Linked DNA regions of Homo sapiens. The protein of the gene in region 1 purifies or fractionates together with the protein of each later gene. This does not show direct contact. Each region holds a gene or a part of one and is shown on either strand. Other genes may lie near its edges.

Region 1 (3,748 bases):
TCCACCAGGTAGCACTGGCCGCCATTGTGACAGTAACTTGGGAAGAGGTCGCACACTGACCGGCAGGAGCCGTTATGCCGCACAAAGCCACTGCGGCACTCAGTGCCATTTTCACTGGAGGCCAAGTCCCTGCCTGGCTCTCCTGGGCGGGGCCTGAGGGCGATGCTGCTGCCGGGGACCGACCCCAGAGTGTGCTGTGGAGGGACAGCATGCCACCGACTGGTGGGCTGGCCTGTCCCGGGCCCCAGACCAGGCTTCCCAGTGGGCACTAGAAGCTCATTTTCATCTTCTAGGTCTCCACCTCCTACTGCATCTTTGTCATCCTCCTCTTCCTCCTCCTCTTCATCCAAGTCATCATAAAAGGATGTGGTGGGGTAGAAATCAGATTCATCGAAGGGGGTGAAATCATCGTATAAGTCAAGCAGGCTCCAGGAAGGGGTCTCTCCCTCAGTATCAGGGTGGTTCTCTGAGGTTCCTGGTGACCCTGGGAAGCTCCCCAGATCTGCGCCACGACCCTCACCATCCAGTCCTTCGAAGTAGTCGATGTCAATGATATCTGATGCCGGTTGGGGCTCCAGGGTGCCCTGAAATGGGTAAGTCAGCTCTGGCCCTTGAGGGTCGGGTGTGCTGCCCCCCAGGTTCAGCCAAACCTCCAAGGGGCTCTCCTTGGGGAGTTCAGAAGCTGGGCTCAGCTTGTCGCCGGGGGTGGGGGAGGGTGGCCCGCTGGCCTCTGTAGCCTCAGGAATGGCAGGGGGCATGATTGACTGCCCGAGGACCTCGTGGGGAGCCTGGAGCGTAGCTGGAAGGGCCTGGGCATCGCCGCTGCCCGCCTCTGCGGTCACTCCTCCCAGGCCTGGGCTGTCAGCTTCCAGCCAGGCGGTGCCGGTCACCGCAGCCGACTCCTGCAGCACCTCTTCTGGCCCGGCCAGCTCGCCACCGGGCGCCGTCCACGACGCCTCATCTTCCCCAGCCGCTGGTGGGCCGGCTTCTTCCCGCGTGTCGTTGGCAGGCGGCTCCCACGCCGGGCTGCCCTTCACCAGCTCTTCGGCCTCAACCGCGCTGCCCGCCTCACGCGCTGCGGGCGGGAGGGCAAGGGGCGGGACGTCAGGGCGGCGCGCTGAGGAGCCCTGGAGCCCCGGCCCGCCCCGGTCAGGCCCGCTCGCCTAGACCTGGTCAACCCAGACCTCGCCACCCTCAGACCCCACCGCCCCAGTGTGACCCCAGCCACCCGGTACCTCTAAGCCCCGTCCCGGAGTCTGCCCCCAAGACGAGGATCACACCCCGCCCAACGCCTCGCGGCTCGGCCCCGCCCGACCTGCCCCGCCGTCTGAAGAGCCAGGCCAGGGCGGCCCCCAGCTCGGCCCACCCATAAGTCTCACCCTCGGGAACCCACCCTGAGCCGCGTCCACTGGCTCCCGCCCTCAGCTCCAGGTCCCGCCCCGAAGTCTCACCCTCAGGCCCCGCCCCGGCCCCGCCCCGGCCCCGCCCCCGGCCCCGCCCCCAGTCCGCACCGCGGCCCGCGCGCTTGGGTCCCGGCTACCCCAACCGGGGTCGGCCCCCACGCGGGTCGGCCTTTCCCGGACCCCCACCACCTCCTGGGACCATTCCGCCGCCCGGCCGCGGCCAGGCGGTGCCCCGCCCCCTTGCCACAGCTCACAGCTCCACCTGTCCCCGCCGCCAGCGGGACCCCTGCCCTGGGTGGGGCACGAGGGCCGCGGGGGTCCCGGGCGCAGTCATACCTACCCGGCACGGCCCCAGAGGCCAGGACCAGCGCGGCCCCCAGAAACAGCAGCAGTGGCGGCGGCCCCCGGCCCGGGCCCCCGCCCCCGGCTCGCCCCATGGCGCGGCGCCCCGACCGCTGTCCGCGGTCCGCCCGGCTGGCTGCGCCCTCGGCTCGCCCGGCCGCCGCGCCTCCCGCCGGTTCTGCGGCCGCCTCAGCCCACGATGGGCAGCGCGAGGAGCCGCATGCCGCCGCCGCCGCCGTCCGCCGCTGTCCCCGGCGCGCCGCGCCTCCCCGCCTCCCGCGCCGCCGCTGCCGCCGCTGCGCTCAGCGCCGCCCTCACCCCGCCCGCCGCGCCGGCCCCGCCGCACGTAGCGGTGACGCCGGCCCCTTGGTCAGCCTGCCAGGGGAACAGACAGACCCCTCGCTGGGGACTAGGAGACACACGGACGGGGAGTGCGGGGCAGGCGGACGGGGAGCGCGAGGCAGGCGCACGGCGCGGCGCGCGGCGTTAGGCGGCAGGTGCACGGGCGGGAGACCTGTGGGATGGGGCCACGGTCCCGCCCCAGGTGAACAGGCGGCACGGGGCCCCGACCCGGAGGAACCCACCCGCCACGCGGCAAGCACGGAGGCGGGGACGTCGCGGGCCCAGTTACCCGCAGGGTCGGGGCGGGGTCCAGAAGAGCCGCAGGGGGCGGAAGCACGAGCCCCCACTGTGGAAACAAGCCAGGCCCGGGGCGCATGGAGCCTCTCGGATTCTGCACCAATCCCGTGTTCCGGGCGGGAAGGCTCTCAGGGAGGTCTCCGGGTCTCCACGAGGGAGGGGCGGGCGTTGGCAGAGCCTGGCAAGGGGGCGAAGCCGACCGCCCAGGCTCTAATCGGATCAGATCTAATCCGTTCGCAGCCAAAGCCACTAGCCTAGATCTCGCACAGCCAGGCCCGCCATAACGCATCCCGGGAGCAAGGGGTAAGACCCTCCCTGGGACTGCGGCTACCTCGCCTTCCTTCTAGTCTCCGGGCAGCCTGGGGAGCGGCCTTTAATCCTGGTCCCTTCTCCGGGATACGTCGTCCCCCAGGTGTCTCAGACCACCAAAACTCAGGTTCCTGGGTAGACCAGGGGGGTCTAGATCCCCAGCCGGGCACACATGGATGCTTGGCTTTAGAGTGATCTGTGGGGCCCATTCACAGCTTCAGGGCTCACAGGGCAACCCAAGACCACGCACCAGGAGGTCTGCTTAGTCGGCAGGAGGAACCGCAACCTAGTTACTTAGTTTATTCCCCCAAACCGACCGTCTACCCCTTAATGTGTTACTCACCCAAATGACAGTTCAGGGTATCAGCCCAAGGAGATAGGACAACTCCAGTATTTAAGAGACGGTCCCATTGCTGTCTTAGAAGACCAAATAAGTGACCAAGATGGAGATTCTATCTCCTAATCTTTCTGATACATATCTCCAGATGGAGTTGCCTTGGTTCAAAACCTGTTTCTCAGCAGAACTATGGCTGCAGCCTATTTGCCTAGCCTAGCGTCTCCACCTCTCCTGCCTGGTAAACTCCTCATGCCAGAAAAACTCAGTTCTTATCACCTTTCCCTCTATGAAGGCTTCTCAGCAGTTACACTTAATGCCCATCATCTCATCTTATCTACAGTTATTCCTCACTGGACTGCAAGGCACTTGAGTGCACAGGGCTGGTAACAGAGGGAGGCTCCATATCAGACAGGCATAAATGAACGAATGGCAACCACCCACACCCATCCCAGAACTGTGGTCTGGAGAGCCTTGAAAAAAGGGGTAAGGCTCTTTCTTTCATAGTTTCATGCTGCCTCCGGGGACCAAGTAAAATATGTTTGAAACAATAGCCTTCTCTAAACAGGGGACCATGTAGGGCTTTGCACTCACCTCAGCCACAGAGGCAGCAACGCACCCTTAACTGCCTCCAACCCATCTCTGCTTCCCTTGTGTGCAGCTTAACTCCTGTCACCTTTTACTGTATGTAGACTCTCTGTGTTCCTTTGCTTGTTTCCTC
Region 2 (3,748 bases), on another chromosome or scaffold:
AGGATTCTTGGTATGAAAAAGGAAATAGCAGATGTAAGATGGAAGGGGCTAAGCAACACTTATAGTTCCAAATTTGAACTGGGAATATCATTATGAACTCTTGAAGTATGTTATCTTAACATATGCATATTGTTCCTTAGCTTTTGTCCACTGAAAAGCCCTAAAAACAATGACCAGTCCAGTTGCAATATATATCCTTATTTTTGCTGTGATCTTGAAATACTGCTGCCCATTAAAAGAAACCAAAACTCCTTAGAGAAATGGCTGGTTCCAGGTCTGGGCAGCAAGAGTTTGAGATGAGCCTGAGATGCAGTCATTACAGACAGCAAAAAAAATTTTTTTTTTTTGAGACAGGGTCTCGCTCTGTCCCCAGGCTGGAGTGCAGTGGCACGACCATAGCTAACTGTAGCCTTGACTTCCTGGCCTCAAGTGATCCTCCTGCCTCAGTACCCCAGGTAGCTGGGACTACAGGCATGCGCCACCACACCCAGCTAATTTTTGTATTTTTTGTAGAGACAGAGTTTCACCATGTTGCCCAGGCTGGTCTCAAACTCCTGGGCTCAAGCGATCCACCCAACTCAGCTCCCCAAAGTGCTGAGATTACAGGTGTGAGCCACTGCACCCAGCCAAGGAAACTATTAAAGGTTTGTTAAAAAGGACTCAGAGCTGGGTGAGGTGGCTCACGCCTGTAATCCCAGCACTTTGGGAGGCCGAGGTGGGCGTATCACTTGAGGTCAGGAACTTGAGACCAGCCTGGCCAACATGGTAAAACCATCTCTACAAAAACTAGCTGGGCATGGTGGTGGGTGCTTGTAATCCCAGTTGCTCGGGAGGCTGAGACGGGAGAATCTCTTGAACCCGGGAAGTGGAGGCTGCAGTGAGCTGAAATCATGCCACTGCACTCCAGCCTGGGCAACAGGCGAGACTCTGTCTCCAAAAAAAAAAAAAAAAAAAGAGGACTCAGGACCCAACCTAAAGACATTGCTGCTAGCCAATGACAGGGTAATTTGATCAAAAATAAGGAAAATAACTGCAAAGGAGTAAAATTAATCCAGTATGTCCAAACCCATAATAATTCAACCTCTCCTGCCACTCTCCACCAGAAAAACTCCTAATTGGTCATCTGTTGAGAACAGATGACCTCAATAGGGAATCAACTTTTTTTTGGAAAACTGCTTTTAAGAGAAGTAATGACAGAATTGGATTATCATCATTTGTAACCCATAATGAATTAAGAAGCTGAACACTGACCAATAATGGCTATTAATGAAATAAAAAGAACAATAATCAGACATTATGGGTCTCTTGATGAATAACACATTACCCACCACCTCTGAAGTAATCTTCCCCAAAATAATTAAACCTGACTCTTGTTAACCATCTAGGTTCAACCACCATAAACATGATTTCTAAATTCTGGTGGCAGTGTTATCTTATTAATACAGTAATTATACTCCAAAATGAGAGAAATAAAATTTGCAAATCATGTAGTCTACAATGGTGCTCAAACTGACAATGTCATAATCCTTGATTTTTTTTTTTTTCTTTTTTGAGATGGAGTCTCACTCTACCGCCCAGGCTGCAGTGCAGTGGGTTTTGAGATGGAGTCTCATTCTATCATCCAGGTTGAGGTGCAGTGGCACAATCTCGGCTCACTGCAACCTCCACCTCCTAGGTTCAAGCGGTTCTCCTGCCTCAGCCTCCCAAGTAGCTAGCATTACACCTGGCTAATTTTGTATTTTTAGTAGAGACGGGGTTTCACCATGTTGGCCAGGCTGGTCTCAAACTCCTGACCTCAAGTGATCTGCCTGCCTCGGCCTCCCAAAGTGCTGGGATTACAGGTTTGAGGCACCGTGCCTGGCCTAATCCTTAATTTTTAAATGATATTGAAGATCAGGAAAAACCCCTGTAAATGACTATGCTGATACTGCTGGAAATTCTGGCATGTCATTGCCACATCTAATTAGAAGTGGATTAGGAAATTTTCATCATCATTAAAAACCAGCAATTATGAAATGTAGAATAAAGTAAGAAATCTGAAGTAGAACAGTACAAGATCTTAAAGCTGGAAGAGGACTTATTGACAATAGGTCAATAAGGATTCCTAGGGATTCCAAAGATCTATATGTCACTGCTAGTCCATATTTATTCCATTGTATTTCTATCTTGGAGATGAAAGGTCTGCAATTGTTATAAAAATACTTAAGAAAGGAAAAGGATACATGAGTTTTTCCGGACAGAAACACTTTGACCGCTAGCCTTTAGCAATTAAAGGCCAAAACTAAGGAATGAATATTGGCCCCAAAATGAAAATCTTTATATGCTAATGATCACATACAGTATACTAAGTTGTAAATATTAAATATTACTCACCGATTCTTTCTCCACAATGCGGTTCAGCATGACAACTGCTTTGGTCTTCTGCTGCCAAACCATAAGCCAGAAATGGCAGCATGTGTTAGGAAGTGGACCCTGTGAAGAGAGAGGAGAGAGAGCAGATGAGGGAAGCAGACAGAAAGAGCAAGGCTCCAGGAAGGCCTTGTTAAGTCTGCTCCTGGGATGTTACAAGACAGACAGCGGACGGGCTTATAAGAAGTAAACCAAGACTTCCAATCTACCTGATTTCAAAAACAGGTCTGTGTTAGTTAGGATTTTTGGTTGTAAATGATCAAAACTGACTTTTATTTTCTCAGGCAAAAAAGGAATTGTGTAAGATATCAAGTGGCTTTCAGAGTTGAGGACTAGAGAGACAAACTTGGGTAGGAACCAAGGGTTAAGACACAAGCAAGGTCCTGCCCCAAAGAAAGTCAACCTGGGATGCTGCTCTTGATACCGTCACTACTATCTCCTTGCTTTTGCTGGCACTGCCATATGAAGGTGGCTATAGTATTCATGTACAATCTATAGGCAAATCAGAGACAAAATCACGAGTAGGAGTATCTGACTGATCATGTTCTAGCTGCAAAGAAGGTAGACCAAGGAAATTTCTGTCCTCTTCATCTTCTACAGCCAAGAGGATGTGCCTCCCACACATCATAGAAAATCCATGAGAAAAAAGTCTGTACCATCACTGGCCAGCCAACCAACTCAAGTCAACTACAAAAAGATTTCTAGAAAAAGTAGGAATCATTAAAGTACCTGAACCACAATGAAACTGTTAATCTACAAATGCACAGTATGTACGGCCTCAATGGAAGAGTATTGGGCAGAGTTAAAAAGGGGCAACAGTCCATGTTACAACAATGCCATGGGGATAAAAGCAAAATATTTCATGTATTTCCAATTGCTTTCACATTTTAATGATAGCATAGGGCAAAAGGAAGATCTAATAAGAGATGAAAAGCCTATGTACAAATTTTAACGAGTTTTAAATGAGAAGGTTAAAATGAGATGTAGTTTTGCTACACCTAAAATAACTATGAACATGCATTCAACTCACATGGAATGTAGCAGAGTGGTATGAGTTAGGGGCAGAGTCAGGAGTGGGGGCTAGGGCTGCCCAGAGCTTCAGACCCACATACAACAAGGGGGTTAAAGTGGTTCTAGACTAAAAGCATTTTTTATTTTTTGAGATGGTGTCTCTGTCACCCGGGCTAGAGTGCAGTGTCACGATCTCAGCTCACTGCAACCTCCACTTCCCAGGTTCAAGAGATTCTCCTGCCTAAGCCTCCCACGGAGCTGGAATTATAGGCACCCGCCACCACACCTGGCTAAATTTTGGATTTTTAGTAGAGACAGGGTTTCACCA
Region 3 (3,748 bases), on another chromosome or scaffold:
GTCTCGATCTCCTCACCTCGTGATCCACCGGCCTCGGCCTCCCAAAGTGCTGGGATTACAGGCGTGAGCCACCGCGCCGGCCAGTTTTGTTTTTTTAAAAAATAACACAGGACTTACTGATTTAGCCTTCTGGGTTCTCCCTTGGGGATGTCACTTTCACTGGCCTCCTTAACTTGACAACCCTTGCTGTATTCGTGACACAAGAAAACACTCACCTGAACCCTGTTGTCTTTTCATTTTTATTTATTTACTTATTTATTTTGCTAGTTGCCCAGGATCTCTTGAACCCCTGGGCTCAAGTCATCCTCATACCTCAATCTCCTGGGTAGCGTACGCCACTTCCAGCTGAACCTTTTTAAAGAAGAAGGTGTTCTAACAACAATTATTGTATGCCTACTCTGAAGACCCAAAGAAAGCCAGCACAGCAATATCTGCATAGGTTAACTAAAGTATTTAGGTATCTTGTTACTCATTTGTAAAACGTGAAAAACACCTGTCATAGAGAATTTGTAGGGAATTAAATATGGTATTCGTGTAAAGGTGCTTAGTGGTGTCCAGTACACTGTTAATAATTATGCTTTTACTATTATCAGTAAATACTGCTAATATGTATAATACCACCATCAACAACGACTTAGCATCTAAAGCAAAGACAGATACTTTATTTCCCACCGCGGCAGAACAGATATTATTAAATTGAAATCACCACACAAAATACATGATTTCGTTCGAGCAATAAATGATGACCTGGCGCTCTTGAGAGTGTATACATTAATACATTATCTTTTAATGTAATACCATTTACAAAGACCTAGGAGTCACAACCCAAGGTATTCTCTACACTACAAAGACACCCAAAGGAAAAATGAGATGAGGAGTGAAAAAAAGAGAAAGCAAAAGAGGAGGCAAAAAGAGAAAACGAAAACTTAAAAATAACCCAACTTGAATTGACTCAGTATTTACAATAAAAAAGAAACGTACCCAATCCATTAAAAAAAGCTTAAAAGCGCCAAATTCCAACACCATAAAGAGACTATCTTTTAAGGACAGACAAAACGAGAGGAGAAATTTTGCTCAATATTCTCTTATGTAAAATGTGGTGAAAATAAGTGTAGAAGTCTGTGAAGAATCACTTTAACTACTTAGACACGAGTCGGACACCTCCCTCCCCGCGCCCCAGTCGCATCCTCAAAGTCATGAAAAATGTCAGAATTCGCATTGGCACTAACCCTTTGGGCGCACCACAACCCAAGAAACGAAACGAGGGTGCACCCCAGAAGAAACTTAACATTCACGGGTAAGAGACGAGGGGGTGGGACCAAGCTGGCGGCAGATCCCAAGAGTTTGGGGAGCTGCAGAAGTCGGGGACGCTCGCTCCGCAACTCGGAGGCGCAGTCCTGGGGAGCCTGCGACCCGCACGAGGAACGTGCGGGGTGAAGTCGTGTGTCCAGGCACGGACGTAGGACCCTGGCCGCCCCGCACTCACAATTCTATCATCCAGTCTCCTTCCAGCAGTTCTCTCCAGTTCTCGTCCGTGATGACGCGAACGTTGCTCCGCCGCCCGTGCGTCCAGGGAGCACCCCAAAGCAACAGCACCAGGACTGCCAGGGGAACTGCAAGACTCCCGGAGGGCGCCATTTCGCCGCTTGCCCACCTCACAGGGAGCGCGGTCGCAGCTCCCACTTCCGCCCTCGCGGGCTGCTCAGCGCAAGCGCACTACGGTGCTGCGAGGAGCGCCTGTCTAGAGGACTCTCAATGCGCATGACAGGGGTCTGATCCCAGTGAGTGGTGAAGTCGGGAAAGAGGGAAGAACGACTCTCCGCAATGCGCATGACAGAAAAGCGGCTGCTTCTACCGCCTAGGGTGTCCCAATATTGTGGGGGAAGGAACAGAGCAAAAGGAGGCGTGGTGTAAAAAGTGGGGCGGTGCTTTGAGGAAGAACGGTTTAAAAGACCCTCCCAGGATTTTGGCGCCAAATGGTTAGCGTTTACAAGCAAATTGGTAAGTTTATAATGTGCTAAAGCAGTTTTCCAATTAAATGTCCTTCAGAGTTCTCATTTGTTTTCTTTGAAACATGTAGTAAAGCTAATGGATTTTATAGGAGTCGGAATATTGGTTTACTTCTGAGAGATTATAGACAGGGAAGGTGCAGAGGAACATTATGGTTATGTTGGATGTGTTGGAGGTGTTCAACATCTAGATATGAACAGTAGTTACATGGGCGTACGTATATGATTTTTTTTAAAGAAGGATCAAGCTGTACATTTTAAGACAGTGCACTTTATGCACTTTCAGGTGTATGTTATCTCTCAAAAAAAATTCAGTAGGTACAGAGATCCTAGGTCAGTACTTCAAAATGGAACCAGACACATAGGCTTGTAAGATATTTGAGTTTTTTCTCTCAAACATTCGTAAATACAAATGCAAACCAAAATGTGCACTGCCCCATCAGTCAAATGAAAATAGTTGCAGGTGCGGTGGCTCACGCCTGTAATCCTAGCAAAACAGGGAGGCCAAGGCAGGCGGATCACTTGAGGTCAGGAGTTTGTGACCAGCCTGACCAACATAGTGAAACCCCGTCTCTACTAAAAATACAAAAATTAGCCAGGCGTGGTGGCAGGCGCCTGTAGTCCCAGCTACTCAGGAGGCTGAGGCAGGAGAATCGCTTGAACCCGGGAGGCGGAGGTTGCAGTGAACCGAGATCATTCCACTGCACTCCAATCTGGGCTATAGAGAGAGACTAAGTCTCAAGGAAATAGTTGCCACTATCTTACCTCACCTTTTCAACTTAATTAACCCCAATTAGTCCCCTTCCCCACCCCTCCACTGAATAGCCCTCTCAAGGACACCAGCGACCAGCAAGATAAATCCCAATTGTTTCTTCTCAATGCATCTAGCATGACTCCTAGCCCCATTCTACCACACCCTTGAAACACTTTACTATCTTGCTGTCTGGGCAGCTCGCTTTTTTTTCTGTCCTACAGTAGCTGATTCTTCTCAAACTTCTTGGCTGGTCCTCCTTTACTTCCGGACATCGGCATCTCCAGGATGCTTTACTGCCCCCCGCCCCCCATCTCCCGCCACCTTTCTCTTCATATCATCAGGCTCTCATCTTTCTGGGAACTACAGGCATATGTATTCAACTGTATATCATTCAGACTCTGATCTTTCTGGGAACTACAGGCATATGTATTCAACTGTATATCATTCAGACTCTGATCCTTCTGGGAACTACAGGCATATGTATTCAACTCCTTGCTAAACATCTCTTGGGTATGTAATAGCTGGTGAAAGGAAAAGAAATCTTGGGGCCCCAAAATCATTAAGCTAAAGGGAAAAGTCAAGCTGGGAACTGCTTAGGGCAAACCTGCCTCTCATCCTTCTTCTCACTGAGATAAATGCATATCTGATTGCCTCCTTTGGAAGGCTAATCAGAAACTTAGAAGAATGCCACCATTTGTCTCTTACCCACCTATGACCTGGAAGCCCCTTCCTGGCTTCGAGTTTGTCCCGCCTTTGCTTTGAGTTGTCCCACCTTTCCAGGCCAATACAATGTTCATCTTACATATGTTGATTGATGTCTCATGTCTCCCTAAAATATATAATATAAAATCAAGCTGTGCTCCACCCACCTTAGGCACATGTCCTCAGCACCTCCTCAGGCTATGTCATGGGCGCGCATTCTTAATTTTGGCAAAATAAACTTCCTAAATTGACTGAGACCTGTCTCAGATTTTGGGGGTTCAGA

Evidence for each region.
Region 2: the proteins of CSPG5 (region 1) and PTPN2 purify together in Homo sapiens (affinity purification with mass spectrometry; 2 studies listed by BioGRID and IntAct, with this or other methods). This does not show direct contact.
Region 3: the proteins of CSPG5 (region 1) and TMX1 purify together in Homo sapiens (affinity purification with mass spectrometry; 2 studies listed by BioGRID and IntAct, with this or other methods). This does not show direct contact.

What each region holds. Positions count from the first base shown.
Region 1 is NC_000003.12:47,576,854-47,580,601, forward strand, and holds the start of CSPG5 (chondroitin sulfate proteoglycan 5 isoform 1 precursor), read right to left. Parts: upstream 2,013-3,748; 5' UTR 1,841-2,012; coding exon 1,744-1,840; intron 1,387-1,743; exon of another isoform or gene 1,236-1,386; intron 1,076-1,235; coding exon 1-1,075. UniProt on the Homo sapiens protein: May function as a growth and differentiation factor involved in neuritogenesis. May induce ERBB3 activation.
Region 2 is NC_000018.10:12,828,570-12,832,317, forward strand, and holds part of PTPN2 (tyrosine-protein phosphatase non-receptor type 2), read right to left. Parts: intron 2,473-3,748; coding exon 2,374-2,472; intron 1-2,373. UniProt on the Homo sapiens protein: Non-receptor type tyrosine-specific phosphatase that dephosphorylates receptor protein tyrosine kinases including INSR, EGFR, CSF1R, PDGFR.
Region 3 is NC_000014.9:51,238,183-51,241,930, reverse strand, and holds the start of TMX1 (thioredoxin-related transmembrane protein 1 precursor), read right to left. Parts: upstream 1,685-3,748; 5' UTR 1,639-1,684; coding exon 1,487-1,638; intron 1-1,486. UniProt on the Homo sapiens protein: Thiredoxin domain-containing protein that participates in various redox reactions through the reversible oxidation of its active center dithiol to a disulfide and catalyze dithiol-disulfide exchange reactions.